Regions from separate parts of the Homo sapiens genome. Here region 1 is linked to region 2. The links come from fine-mapping of genetic effects on gene expression. Tissue or cell type: skin. Region 2 holds a variant in brackets; the other region holds the start of a gene. All regions are shown on one strand. Distances are from middle to middle.

Region 1 (8,111 bases), 440 kb after region 2:
TAAAACAGTTAGTTGGAACATGTGATGTAAGCCATGTAACTATGAACTGTGATTGTGATGATGAGGAAGTGGAGGAGGTGGATGGAAGTGGTAAGGATGACAAGTTTTAATGAGGCTTTAAACCCTTTGTGGAAACCATCTAAAATCAAACATTCGCATGTTTTTAAATACCCATAACAGTATCTAGAGCAGTGGTTTTCAATTAGAAGCATTTGGAAGTATGCACAGGGAATGGGAGTTACAATTTTTTGATGTCGCATGACTGAGACTACTACTAGAATATAATGGGCAAGTATGCCAAAGGTTCTGCAACACGTGGGCCATTCCCACACACCAAAGAACTGTCCACCCAAAATGCCAATAGTGTCCTGTTGGGAAGCACTGATGAATGTCCAACACAGAGGAAGCATTCATTAAACATTTACTAAATAAATGAACATAACTTATACTACATATTTCCTTCAGAGCACAATCTCTTGGAAGGCTCATTCTTCTTCACCTTCCCAGCTCCCCAACACTGAACCTGACACACAAGCATTTAGTGAGTTGTCTCTCAAACATTCCATCAAGACATCAAGACAATCTATTAAACTGCAAGAAATTCTAACTTGACATGGGCAAGTTAAGGTAATGATGTTCAACACATTCTCTCCAGGTATAAAGGAAGGCTGGAAAGATAATACTAAAACCTAGATGTCCTATGGAAATAAACAAAGCTTTGCTCCATCACCAGGTGTTTAATTTAAATTTTGAAACATGATCATTCCAAAAACAAAAATAAGAAAAGGCAATAATTTATAAAGATTTATATGCTTTACAGAGGTAAACTAACCCAAAGACATACTTTTCTTCTGAGTATCAGCTTGAATGTCAAAATTAAGCCACTTGGCTATCTATTTCTTCTGGGGGAAAAAGCCACCAGAATGTATCATATTACATACTTCCATGTTTCAAAAGAACAAAAGTCATTTTCTCCAGGACTGACATAATGAGAGCCAAGCAAATGTTGAAAGTAGCAAAAGGTTGCAAAGGAACTGAATGAAGAATAGTATAAAACAATGGCAATAGAGAAAAGCATGCATCATACAGTAGTTTAAAGATTAGATCATTTTTCCTAATTCAGAAAAAGGGCAAACGAGTATACAATAAGCCCATAGCCGGGTGCCTGTATTCCCAGCTACTTGGGAGGCTGAGGCAGGAGAATTGCTTGAGCCCGGGAGGCAGAGGGTACACTGAGCTGAAATCGCACCACTGCGCTCCAGCCTGGGCGACAAAGTGAGACTCCATCTAAAAAATAATAATAACAACAATAAGCCCATAGCATTAAAGAAAATGTATGTAGCAATGGGAGAACTTTTCAGATTTCTAAAATCATCAGAATAGAAACGGTGAATTACTGCAAATATACTTTTAACTCATACATTTTTAAAACACTGGAAATTCAATTGCAAGAATCCAAAAAATTGACTGTTTGAAAGACTAAGAAAAAATAACCAAATTTAATTTCATAATAGAAGCTTTTCATGTCTCAGGGCTGCCAAATACTGCTAGATTCTTAAGAATAAATTATCTATACCAATATAACCAGAAACTGCATTAGAGGGGATCTGTATGACGTGGCGTATAAAAGAAAAAATTCCCAGATGAAAGAGCGCATATAAGCAAATGAACAAATAAAGAACTCTCATTCAAAGTAATGAATACATTTTGATATCGGAAAGCTTCTCAATCTGTGTCTTTAAAGAAGTTAACTACAACAAAAGCTTCTCAATCTGTTTCTTTAAAGAAGTTAACTACAACATCTTTGAACTACTAACAATTTCCATTTATGTATGACCAGCTCATCTGAACTAAGTGTCAAGATGAAGCTAATTTTAATGCATTTTGTTTTTCTCTGTTATATACATAAAAAAAAAAATCTGGTAACGTATAGGCTATTTAAATGAATTCTTAGAAATTCATAGCAGGCCTCTAGTGGTATGGAGGATATAATGAATTTTATATTTTTTTAAGTACTGGAGTTTTTTTCACAGCAAGGAGGAGGAGTATCACCTGATAATACAGAAAAAAATAGATCACAAATAGATAAGAACCAAAATATTTCTTCAGGATGAGCACTTGGGTTTTAGTGCGTATAAAGAAGTTGGATGGAATGGTTTGGATCAATTTTCATTGACAGCCTTGCTTCCTAGCCACCTATTCTGAAGTGCACTCGATAAAAAGAGAATGTCTACTAAAATGACCTTGTGTCTACACAGCTTACTTCCAGATTACAAGACTCATCTGGCATCACAGGCCAAGCATATTCCATACAACTGGACACATGACAAACTCAGAGCAATTGATTACTATGTTTAGGTTTATACATTCATAAAAAAGTAAAATTTGAACCATCAACATGGCCAAGCACAGATGTTGTTGGCTCTCCCTCAAAAACTTATTGAGGCTTTAGTGTTCTTAATTCTATTACCAAAAAAAAAGCAATTCCAAAAGGAACCATAGAGGAGTTGAAGTCATTAAAAATGAGGAGGCCTTTCTGTTTTAACTTTTCTTACATACATATGCAAACTCAGTTTTACCCTGAAAGATGACATCTAGGAAAAAGTCCATTTTGTAAGCACCTACTGAAAAGAGAACTTTCTGTAGTATTGGCTGACAAAATGCAGTTTATCCCAAACTCTTAAAATTATTACAAACATGGAAGTCTTAACACAGCTCCACTTATTTTAAAAGTTTCTCAAATAGAATATGACCCCCTCACCTTCTTCCAAAAATAGTTAAGTGGAATATTTTAATAATTCATGTCTACAGTTCCCTTTAATAATTTCATTGATTTATTATGATACCAAGGGTATTTCATTTGGAGGTCTAAAATATCCCCTTCTTTGTGACTAAGAGGTAAATGCACATTTGAAGGGGTGATATGCCTTATGTTCTTCGAGCAATGTAATCTGCTGTGTGACATAAATTTTGGCTCTGATCTCACACTGAGGTTTTCACTCCATAGGCACCTGCTTGCAATTTAAATTGAAAGAATCAAAACTTGGTCTTGGATAAAGGAAAGATCCAATTTTCTGTCTGTGTCCTCAACGTAAAACAAAGATTCAATAGTAGTATACAGATTGCCAGAAACCACAGGCTAAAGAGATGTGGCAATTTCCTGAAAGATTTTATGTTTGGGGGGTGGGGGCGGGAGGGGGGCAGGTAGGGTGGAAAGGAGTTGTGGGAGGGGAGAGAGAGACAGAGAGAGAGAGAGAGAGAGAGGAGGGAGAGAGAGAGAGAGAGAGGAGAGAGAGGAGAGAGAGAGAGAGGGAGGGAGGGAGGGAGAGAGAGAGAGAGAGAAGAGAGAGAGGAGAGAGAGAGAGAGGGGGAGGGAGGGAGGGAGGGAGGGAGGGAGGGGGAGAGAGAGAGAGAGAGAGAGAGAGAGAGAGAGAGAGAGAGAGAGAGTCTGCAAGCCCACCATGATGGTCTCTCAAGCCCGCTCAGACATCTGCCCACCATCCACTGCAAGCCTCTTTCAAATGGTCACTTCCTATTATAAGGTTAAACTATAATCAACAAATCCCTTTCTTTCTCCTAACTCAAAACTGTAGTTTCCCATCTCCTTAAAGAAAAGGCACTATCCACCATTTGCTTTCTATTGTTAAAAGGGGCAATGCGTATCTTCTTTTCTTTATGGCACAATTATTAATATTACTCAGAAAGTCCTACCTTTACAAGTTATAATAAGTATCAACATTTATTTGAAATCATACTGTAAAATTTAAAAGGCATCCATATTTATGTTTTATTCTCACAATGACATCTCCAGGTCTTCAAACGGAAGACTACGACACAAATGGCCTGCCTTCACCGTGCTGCAATTTCTTCAACAGGTAACTTGCTTAGCCTGTGCTACGTATTCATACTGCACGTGGATGTCACTGAATGTCCTTTCTCTTCCAATACATATCTGTATCTAAAAGCACACGGTTTGCTTGCAGATTTTCTTCCTTCCCTTCTCCTCCCTATGGGAAGCTGCCCACTCCACCCCGAAAACACTGTCCCCCAAAGCAAGGGGACGCGCTGCACCCTCGGCTGTCACCGCGAGGGCTCGGCGCGCATGCGCGGCGCGAGCGGCCGGGCCCCACAGCCGCAGGTCGTTGGTAAGGCGGGTCCGCGGACCCCAGGTCGAGCCCAGCGGCAGTGCAGGATCGCAAGCGGCCCGGCACCGGCGCCGCAGGTTGTTGGCAAGCCTGGTCCGGGGTTTTAGGTTGAGCCCAAGCGGCAATGCGGGATCGCCACCGGGCCGCGCGGGCTTGGGAGGGTGACGCCCGCGAGGACACTGCGGCGTCCGGGGCGGGCGGGCACACTCACAATTTCAGCATCCACTCGCCCTCCATCACCAGCGTCCAGTTGGAGGCGGTCATGGGCTGGACCCGGCTCTGCTCCGGCGGCAGCGCGGCCTCCTCGGGGCCTGCCGTCGCCGCCACAGCCGCGATCCAGGCGGCCAGGAGCGCCGTTAGCTGCGGGCCGCAGCGCCCACCCGCCATGTTGGGCGCCGAGCGAGGCTTCTCGGCGGGGAGTGTGGGGAAGGGCAGCGGCCGGCCCGCAGCCTCGCTCGCCCGCCGGGTTTTTCAAGGAAGCGGGAGACGCAAGGGCCACCCCGCCTACGCCTAGCGGCGCAGACTGGCGGTGCTCGCAATGCCGCGGAGGACGCCACCTCTTATCGCCGCTTGCCCGTCGAGGCCACGCCCCCTCCCGCCTCCACTTGCCGTTGCCCGGGGTGTCGGTTACCTCAGCAACCACCGCCCTTTCTTCCTGACCGCCAAGCTGACAATAAACAGATGACCCAACGTTGCCTAAGTTAGAACATGCACCGCTGCTGCCCAGGCTCCAATAAGGGCAGGGTTGGCGCGTGTGGGCTTCTCTAAAGGGAAACATGGCCAGTAATTTTAAAATCCATCCCCTCTTCAATGATAGCAAATATAAAAGCAACGGGCTGCAAGGTACACGTATGTTTAATGAAAAATGGAGGGACGTGGTGAGTATCTCCTGCTGAAGAGAGAGGAAAATTTAAGTACTCTGCATGTGTATATTGAAGCATCACTAATTTAGGATATTGATGAAACTAGCCTATGCAATTGCATTTTTTTTACAAAAAATGTTAATTTCATAGAAACTCTTAAAAACATGGGTACTAGCCGATAAAATGAGTCAATTAAGACTATTGCCACCTGCAGTAAAATGGACCTCACATTTCTCTTGACTACAGTTTTGTCAGATCTAAAATGAGGGTAGCCTTAAGTGATTTCCAAATTTCTTTCCAGGTCACATTAGATGAATCTGTACCTTGGGACCACCACACCGTTAATATATAAGACTGGATTACAATTAAAGGATGAGGAAGCTTTCTCAAAGGGTGCTTTGTATGTGTTTACTAGTTGTGCAAACCATGAACCTCGGTAATGTGGTTAATAGACCATGAAAAGGATGTGGTTTCTGCCCTCGGCTTAAAACAAAGACAGCAATAAGACTAAAAGTACTTCAGGGCACATGAGAGCAAATTTCAATCAATACTTATAGGAGAGGGAAGTTAATTTTGCCTGAAGAGAAGATCTGGCCTGCATTATGCATTAATTAGTATTAGCTAAAAACTATGTGGACCTAGCCCTTATCATTAAAATAAAACACTCAAGGGTTTACAAACTATTGAAATTTAAGAAAATGTCTTTGCAATGAATGCTACTAAGACTCACTGTTATTAAGTACATACATATCAATTCCATAAACTCAATGGAAAACATTTTACTGTGCTTGTAAAAAGAAGTGACTCATAAACAGGAATTCTGTCATTTTATCACTTTCATGATAGAATGATGTGTAGAATTTGTTTTACAATGCTCCAGAAATAAAATGTAGGGAATGGAAAGAAGATAGGTGAAAGAAAAGTGGTGCAACATCAGTCAGTGTTGAAGCTAAGTTCATTTTGCTACTTTACCTACTCATGCATATGTTGGAAAATTTACAAAATGAAAAGCTAAAAGGAGAGAGAGCATCTTCAGCATGAAAGACAGCCATTACCAAAGCATTTCCTATCTTTAACAAAAACTGAAGTCTTAGCCTTCAGACTAAGGATGGTAGGAAGAAAGTAGCAAGGAAGTATGGGACTGACCTTGCCGTAAGGAGTCACAGACCAGGGTAAGGGACCTGTTGCTGTCAGACCATGATTGGCATCTTAGCCCTGACACTTCCTAGCCATGTGATTTGGGGCTAAAACTAGTCCACACCAAAGTTCTCTTAAAATGCGGGTAGTAATAGAACCTGCTCCAAAAGGTGGCTGTGAAGATTATATGAGATAAGAATAATGCCTAGCACATATTCTAACTCAAAAAGCTTACATATTAGGTTGGTGCAAACATAATTGTGGTTTTTGCCACAATATTGCCAACACTAATATTATTATTTGGAGGCAACAATACGCTGTAATGTCTATTTTTCTTATACTAAAGTTAACTTCACTTAGCATGATACACAATGCCTCTCACAGCCCAGCTTCAGTTTTGCCCACTTTACATTCCACTATTCCCAGAGTTCCCTGTGTCCTAGTAACACAAAGCTACTCCCCATTCCCAAAGCACATTGTGTACTTCAGTGTCTCCTTGCTCCTTCATTCTGATTAGAACACTCTTCTCCAGTTGTCCAGTGAATCATTCAGTCTCTGTCATGTAGTCCACACTGTACCTCTGATAGCTCATGCAGAATGAGCTGCTGTCTCTTCTCAGATCCAATTGCTCTTCTGTATAACTGATATGGTTTGGCTCTGTGTCCCCATCCAAATCACATTTTGTAGCTCCCCTAATTCCCACGTGTTGTGGGAGGGACCCCATGGGAGATAATTGAATCATGGGGGCGGGTCTTTCCCATGTTGTTCTCGTGATAGTGAATAAGTCTCATGAGATCTGATGGTTTTAAAAATGGTAATTTCCCTGCACAAGCTGTCTCTCTTTTGGCCTGCTGCCATCCGCGTAAGACATGACTTACTCCTCCGTGCCTTCCACCATGATTGTGAGGCTTCCCCAGCCATGAGGAACTGTGAGTTGAATAAACACTTTTTCCTGTATAAATTACCCCGTCTCGGGTATGTCTTTATCAGCAGCGTGAAAATGGACTAATACAATAACTTCACCACATACCTTTCATAGTATAATGCATTTATATGTAGCTATCACCCTCTACCCTCACTCCTCCAACCACTACTAAAAACTCTTCAAGGTCAAGGGCTTTACCTTATATATCTTTGTGTCCCCTGTATTGCAGAATACCCATCCCATAGATGTACTTGGGATAGACAGCTTCTGGCACTCCTCCCAAGATCTCTCCCTCCTGGTATTCAGGCCCTTGTGTGATCCTTTCCTCTTGAGTGTGGGTTGGGCCTGGTGACCCACTTCTAACAGAAGATGGGAAAACTGATGGATTATCACTTCTTTGTTAAGGTTACAAAAACCTGAGACTTCCATTTTGCTGGAAACTTCTTTTCCTCTTGCACACTCACTCTGCGACTCTGTGTGGAGAGCTCCATGTGACAAGGGAGGTCTGCAGCCTAAGCAACTGAGACCTCAGCCCAACAGCCCTCAAAGAACTGGATCTTCAAACAACCACATGAGTGACCTAGAAGCAAATCTGTCACCAGTGCTCTTGAGACGGGTGAGCCTTATAAATGACCCAGAACCAGGGGGCAAAGCTTAGCTTAGCTGGGACCTCCACCCACGGAAACTGTGAGGTAATCAATGTTGTTACATAATATCAAGCCACTAAGATTTGGGGCAATTTGTTATGCTGTAATGCTATGCTAGGTCAGTGTGTGATCCATGTTTATGTTTAAAACGTGGATTTACAGGTTTAAGAAGATTGGTACCTGGTACTAGGAGAAAAGGCTTTTTCCCCCAGAGTGATGGTGGCACTGCAGGGCAGCTATGATTACACAAAAATATGTGGTTCCTAGTAGGCAAAGGAATTCCTAGGCCTCTGATGAGGTAACATCATTAGCAGGAGAGAGGGGAAGAAGAGTGTGGTAGATCCTATCTAGTCCCCCTCTCTTTCCCTGCCCCACAGAGGAGGATGCTCCTACA
Region 2 (8,111 bases):
TGAATCAAGGATGTCTTCACACCAAGGGGGTTGAAGAGATAGCCAAAGACATAAGCAGCCAGCACCCCTATAAAATCACCAAGACTTCGATTTTTATCTTTTTCTCATCAAAACAGCAGAGAGGTTAACTTCTCCAATTGACAGATGTGTAAAAGGCTGGTGCAAGAAAATGCCTGACGTGCTTTATGAAGCTCCATAGCAGAAGAATGTTTTCATCCCTACCATGTGAAAAATTGAAGCTTAAATGACTTCCATATGGGGAATTTTGTGTTACTCCATGCGAGTCCCTGGCTTTTGTCTTCTACATGCCATTGCTCCTTAAATTCGATTTATTCATTTGGTTAAACTCTTTTTGTGAATTCCAGGTAATAGATTCCTCTGGATTCCAATACAATGAAACTTTTTATCAAATAGCTTTAAATTAGAAAGAAAAAAATTTTTATCAGAGTAGATCAACCAGGGATTTGGATTTGATCTGAGATGTTCTGTGACTGCACTTGTTTAACTATCTTACATGAAAAAAGATATATGACGTATACACCATGATTTGATTCATGGTATAGCGTGGATCATGCCATGATCCATGATGTAGCAATGTGTATCTTTGGGCCACAGTTAATTTTGTTTCGGGCTTAATACATAGATTAAGTTTGTAATGCATCCACTGTCTCTAAAGGAAAAATCAAATTGTAAATCATATCCTGATATGTCTCTAAATTATACCTAAAAATAATAGGAATTGGTGAGTTAAGTGAAGGAGGTATAAAACCATCATTCAAATATTAATTGAGTACTAATTAGTATAAGAAACTTGCACATATACTTTCTTCAGCTGCAAAGTAGGTATCAACACCCTCTTTTTTCAGAGAAGGTCGCTAACCAATATACTTAAATTAATTTGTCCACAGCTATAGAGCAATAAATGACGGAAGAAGGTTAAAATCATGACCTCATTTCAAAGTCCATTTTCTGGTCTTATGCCATATCTAGAGATACCTAGATCCTAAAATAATAATGCATGGCACTTTCTAAACATGCCCACAAAATCTTTGATACCCCTTCTGTTAAGAGGCGGGATCTCTGTTTCCTTCCCTTGAATCTGGTCGTAACTCAGTGATGCATTTACAATCAATAAACCACAGTTGACATAGTATTATATGGCTTCTGTGACTAGGCCAAAAACACCCTGTGGCTTCCACCAGATTAAACAGTCTGCTCCCTCTGAAAGAGGTCAGCCACCATGAAGAAAGTCTGACTGCTCTGAGATTACTGTGATGGAAAGTCTCTGGTACTCTGGCTGACAGTCTGGCCAAGCCCCGAAGCCAATACCAAGAATCAACTATCAGTCAAGTTACTGAGCCATCTTGGAGGTTCAATTCAGTTGAGCTTCAGGCAACTGATACCCTAGGGGACAGCTCACTGCAACCACATGAGAGACCCCATGAAAGAGTAACCTAGCCAAGCCTTTCCTGAATTTCTTAACCGTAAATGAGTGAGCAAAATGAAATGATTGCTGTTTTATACTACTAAATTTGGGGATAATTTTCATACAGCAAATCAATCAAAATACAAGACAAGATTCACTAAGCATTTAGGCAATGAGGCATCAGCAAGAGATATGGGGGACCTCTGAGTCTCTATCCACCTTCACTATTCAATAAGCAGAACTCAACTATGGCACAGGAGATAATATGAGCACAGCCATTAAATCAGACAAACATGGATGTATCCCAACATTGACACTTACTAGCTCCAATGTGGCCTAATCAAGGTAATATCCAGGGTTCTCTATAGAAACATAATGTATATATATATAATATTTATACATATATATCTTATAAATCTCTTTATATATTTATATAATATGTATAATATCTATTTAGGTAATGTATAATATATAAATATATAAATATATTTATTATAAGGAATTGGCTCACATGATTATGGAGGCTGGGACGTATTAAGATCTTCAGTAAGCAGGCTGGAGACCTAGAAGAGCCAGTAGTGGAGTTCCAGTTCCAGCCTGAATTTGAAGGCCTGAGAATCAGGAGAGCCAATGATGTAAGTTCCAACCTGAAAGCTGACATTCTCAAGAGCCAAGAAGAGCCAATGTTTTAGTTTGAGTCTAAAGAAAGGAAGAGACCTATGTTCTAGCTCAATCACCAAGCAGAAAGAGTTCTCTCTTAAGACCAAGTCAACTTTTTGTTCTATTCAAGTTTTTGACTGATTAAATAAGAGAAACTCACATTGAGAAAGCCAATCTATATTACTCAGTCTTACAAATCAAATGTTATTCACATGCAAAAGCGTCTACATACACACGCTGAGAATAATGATTGACCAAAATTTCCACACCTGGTGGCCCAAACAGGTTGACACATAAAATTAACCATCACTAAAATATTGGCCTATAATTTTGTTTTCTTGTAATATCTTTGGTGACTTTGGTGTTGGGGTAATTAATACTGATTATAAAATTTATTGGGTAATTTCCTCCTGTTCAATTATTGTATGAGTTTGTGAATGATTGGCATTAATTTTTCCTTAGATATCTGGTAGAATATACATCCTGGGCTTTTGTTTGTGGAGAGCTTTTTGATTACTGAATCAATCTCTTTACTTATTATTGGTTTACCTATATTTTCTAATTCTTCATGATACAGTCTTGGTAGATTTTATGTTTACAAGTCAATATTCCTTATGAACTTAAATGGAAAAATCCTCAACAAAATATTAGCAAAGCAAATTCACCGGCACATTAAAAAAAGATTATACATCATGATTAAGTGGGTTTTATCTCTAAAATGCAAGGATGTTCGAATATAAGCAAATCAACAGATGCGATACATCATATTATAAGAATGGATGATAAAAAATAAATATCAATAGATGCAGAAAAATCATTAGACAAAACTCAACATCCTTTCGTGATAAAACTCTCAACCTATTAAATACAGGAATAATGTAGTTTATCAGAATAAAGGCCATATATGACAAGCCCACTTATAACATCATAGTCAACCGTAGAAAGCTGACAACTTTTCCTCTAAAATAAGGAACAAGACAATGGTGCTTACTCACATCACTTCTACTCAACATAGTACTCAAAATCCTAGCCAGAGCAATTATTCATCAATAAAAAGAAATAAAAGGCATCCAAATCAGAGAGGAACAAATAAAACTGTCTTTGTTTACAAATGACATGATCTTACATATATAAAACCCTGACTACTCCACCGAAAAACTGTTAAAAGTAATAAACAAATTTAGTAGTGTCGCAAGTGTTGCAGGATACAAAATCAACATACAAAAATCACTAAAGTTTTATACAATAAACAAGCTATCTTAAAAAATTAAGAGAATTATTTTATTTACAATAACATTTTAAAAATACTTAGGAGTATATTTAACTAAGGAAGTGAAAGTGATTTACAATGAAAACCGTGACACTGGTGTAAGAAATTGAAAAAGACACAATTAAATAAAGAGATGTCATGTTCCTGGTTTGGAAAAATTAATATTATTAAAATGTGCATCCTACACAACACAATCTACAGATTCAGTGCAATCCCTAATGAAATTCCAAAGTGATTTTTCACATAAGTAGAAAATAATTTCTTAACATTCATATGGGACCACAAAAGACCCAGACTAGCCAAAGCAATTTTGAGAATGAAGAATAAAACTGGAGGCATCACACTACCTGATTTCAAAACACACTACAAAGCTACAGTAATCAAAACGAAATGATACTAGCATAAAAACAGACATAGGGACCAATGGAAAAGAACAGAAAGCCTGGAAGTACGTTCATGGATTATAAAGTCAAATGAATTTGGCAAAGGTAACAGATGTACACAATAGAAAAATGATAGTTTCTTCAATATACGGTGTTGGAAAAACTATATTTACA[T/A]GCAGAACAATGACATTAGACCCTGTACAAAACCAACTCAAAATGAATTAAGTACGTAACCATAAGGCTTGTAACTGTAAAACTACTAGAAAAACAACAGGGAAAAAGACTTCTTGACATTCGTATAGGTAATGAGTTTTAGCTATGACCCCCAAAGCACACGCATCAAAACCAAAAATAGACAACTGGAACTACATCAATCTATAAAGATGTTGCATATCAAAAAAAAACAATAAACAGAGTCAAGAGAAAACCTATAGCATGGAAGAAAATATTAAATGGGACTGAATATACCTTTCTCAAAAGAAAACATCCAAATGGCCAAGAGGTATATGAAAAAATACTCAACAACACAAATCATCAAAAAAATGCAAAAAAAACACAATGAGAAATTATGCAGCACTATTCACAAAAGCAAAAGTGTGGACTCAACATAAGTGTCCATCAACAGATAAATTGATAAAGAAAATGTTGTATATAGATACGATGGTATGCTATTCACGTGACGAAAAAAGAATAAAACCATGTCATTTGTAGCAATGTGGATGAAACTGGAGGTCATTATATTAAGTGAAATAGGCCAGGCACAGAAAGGCAGAAGCCACATGTTCTCACTCATATGTGGTGGGAGCTAAAAAAGTTTATCTCATGGAGATAGATAATGGATTGTTAGGTACCAGAGGCTGAGAAGAGTATGTGGGTGGAGGGGAGAATGAAGAGTTGGTTAGTGGATACAAAAATACAAGTTAGAAGAAATGAGCCCCAATATTCAATACCAGAGTATGGTAACTACAGATAGCAACAGTGTATTGTGTATTTCAAAGTAGCTAGAACAGAGGACTTGAAATACCACCAACATAAAGAAATAATAAATACTCCAAGTGATGGAAAACACAAACACCCTGACTTGATCATTGCACATTATATGCATGTAACAAATATTCACATGTACTCGTTAAATATGTAAAATATTTTGTATCAATAAGAAAATAACGGCTATAGTAAAAAAAAGAAGACAAAAGATAACACGTGTTGACAAGAATGTTGAGAAAAGAAAATGCTTGTGCATTGTCAGTGGGAATTTCAATTGTTTAGCCATTATGTAAAATTGTGTGGAGGTTGCTCAAAAAATTAAAAATAGAACTACCATATGATCCAGCAATCCCACTTTTGGGTATATATCTAAAGAAAATAAAATCAGTATCTCAAAGAGATATCTGCACTTCCATGTTCATTGCAATATCACTCACAAGAGCCAAAATATAGAACCAACCTAAGTGTCCACTAACAGATAAATGGATAAAGAAAATGCAGATAAAGAAAACATTGTATACATACATATAATATGCATATAATATGTAAGTATAAAATGGAATATTATTCAACCTTTAAAAAGTAGGAAATTCTGTCATTTGTGACAACATGGATGAACCTAGAGGACATTATGTTAAGTGAAATAAGCCCATACAGAAAGACAAATACTGAATAATCTCACATATATGTGGAATCAAAAAGAGTCAAACTCATAGAAGCAGAGAGTAGATTGGTGGTTGCCAGAGGTTGGAGAATGGAAGAAATGAGGAGGTGTCTGAAAAAGTAAAAAATTTCAGTTATGCAAGATGAATAAATTCTGGAGACCTAATGTATGGCATCGTGACTATGATTTTTAGTACAGTAGGTGTTAAATGTTCTTACCACAAAAAAAAAAACATGTGATATACTTTGCATATTTGTTCCCTCCAAATCTCATGTTGAAATTTGATCTGCAAGGTCAGAGATGGGGCTTGGTGGGTGGGATTGTTTGGGTTATGGAGGTGGATCCAACATGCATGGCTTTGTGCCATCCTGAAGGTAACCTGCAGATCTAATTATTGAAAAGAGCCTGGCACCTCCCTCCTCTCCCTATTGCTAATCTCTCTTGCCATGTGACATGCTGACTCCCTTTACCTTCTGCCATGAGTAAAAGCTTCCTGAGGCCCTCACCACAAGCCAAGCAGATGCCTATTCCACACTTTTTATACAGCCTGCAAAACTATGAGCCAAATAAACTTATTTTCTTTATAAATTACCCAGTCTCAGGTATTCCTGTATAGCAGAGCAAGAGGAACTAATATACTATATGAGGTGATAAATATGTTAATTAGATTAGTTGTGGTAATCATTTTACAATGCATACAAATATCAAAATGTCACATTGTACACCTTTAATATAGACAGTTTCTATTTGTTGATTATACCTCAATAAAGCTGGAAAAAACATAAGTCCATTCCTTCTCAAATGGGTACCTATATTCATCTCCTTAAACCTACCTAATATCCAAATAAAGACAATAACAAGGTTATAATTCCACCTGATACAATTCTCCATACAACTAAAAACACACCAGCCTCTTTTTCAGAAGAGGAGATAAAGTGCTTGAGTATTTACTTTTCTCTTCGATATCCCATAACTTATATTTGCATTACGATAATGCAAAATATTTTTTAAATACTATGTATTTAATATTCAAATGCTATTTAAATACTATGATATAAAAGTGAATACATCTTACGTTACATGGTAAGAGAATAAGAGAGAAAAGATATATATATATTTATAGACATACATGCATATAAATACATGCAACATATTGACAACAAGGTAAGAGGGATATGTTCAACAACTACAGCCCTCCTTTCTGTAACTGGTCACACAGTCACAGCTGTTATTTATAACAGCCTTCCTCTACTAGCCACTCTGTATTTCCTTTGCCTTCAGAAAATCCTTTATCTAGTTCTTTATCTGGTGGAGTTACCCAAACTCCAGATGAAGGGTGTCCTCAAGGGCCTGAGACATTAATAATCCTGCCTTGATTTCAATGCTATAGTTTCCCATTGACCTTAATCATAGGGCATGGTAATACTAAGAGGCATCCAGAAGAATCTACTGTATTCCAGAAATATTCTTCCATGCCTCCATTGTGTAGTCAGTTTCTCCTTGGTAGTCAGGATCAATCGTCTCAGCCAGCAGAGTAACTCCCTTCTTTGCCTGTTGATTTAGAGGCAGCAGGAAACCAAAGTCCCTGGACAGGAGTCTTAACTTCCACTTCAATAGAGTCACTGTTTTGTCTCCTGGTGGAAATGTCTCCTCCCTTTGGAACTAAAATATTTAGGCTAGCAGATCATAAAGTCATGAAAACAGAAAGCAAAAATTTTGCAAGTGGGTCATTAAGGGTCATAGTGAGTGATGCCATTCCCACTTGCAACCCTGGACTCATGAACACTGGCTATGGGAGAAACCACACCATATATTGGATGCTGATTGAGACCAGATATATAGCCTTCTGGAGAACTTGCCCCAGCCCAGCAAGGCATTGTCATGTACCTAGTACTGTAACTGAGTCTTCAAAAGATCATTCTACAGATTTACCAATCCAGCTGCTTCATGATGGTGGGGAACATGGTAAAACCAGTGAATTCCATGAGTATGGGCCCATTGCCACACTTCATTTGCAGTGAAGTGGGTGTATTGATTAGAAGCAATGCTGTGTGGAATAAGACAATGTATCAGTGAAAAAGACAGTCTGAAAATTCATAGACGGTAGTTTTGGCAGAAGTATTGCATGTAGGGAAGAGAAATTTGTATCCAGAGTAAATGTCTATCCAAATAAACGCAAAACACTGCCCCTTCCATGATGGGAGCATTCTAATGTAATCAACTTGCCACCAGGTAGCAGGCTAATTCCCTGGGGAATAGTGCCATATTGAAGACTCAATGTTGTTCTTTGCTACTGGCAAATTGAATACCCAGTGGTGGCTGTAGCCAGGTCAGCCTTGGTAAGTGGAAGTTGATTTTGCTGACCTCATGCATCACCTCCATTTCTCACACCATAACCACATTTTTATGAGCTCACTGGGTCATGAAAGGGTCTGGAGAAAGAAATTGTCTGGTATCCATACAATGGATCATTCTGTCAATTAAATTATTAAAATCATCATCTGATGATGTCTTCTTTTGAAGCATTCATATGGGGTACAAATGCCTCCATGATTTTTCCCATTTAGATGTGTTTATACAGAAAGTTCTTCCCCCAATTTTTTGTTATTAATTTATCAATCATGTTTTTTTCAATTTCCTGATCATCCAGCCAACCATAGGTCACAGACCATGACTCGGTATGTAATCTCATATCAGACCATTTCTCCTTCCAGAAAAGTG

Evidence for each region. PIP is the estimated chance that this variant, and not a neighbour inherited with it, causes the effect.
Region 1: it holds the start of TMX4, and the variant in region 2 is fine-mapped to the expression of TMX4 in skin (TwinsUK, PIP 0.95).

The regions. Positions count from the first base shown.
Region 1 is chr20:8,015,082-8,023,192 of GRCh38, forward strand. It overlaps TMX4 (thioredoxin related transmembrane protein 4), which reads right to left and starts at 4,680. Exons shown (of 8, transcript NM_021156.4): 1 at 4,357-4,680. The coding sequence starts at 4,532. It overlaps TMX4-AS1 (TMX4 antisense RNA 1), which reads left to right and starts at 4,825. Exons shown (of 7, transcript NR_184034.1): 1 at 4,825-5,023; 2 at 5,310-6,180; 3 at 6,978-7,074; 4 at 7,300-7,368; 5 at 7,476-7,686. RefSeq lists silencers at 4,191-4,330, 4,441-4,680.
Region 2 is chr20:7,571,724-7,579,834 of GRCh38, forward strand. No RefSeq gene overlaps it. Among named protein-coding and RNA genes, the nearest start is that of MIR8062, 200 kb to the left of the region's middle. The variant T/A (reference allele first, on the strand shown) is at 3,914.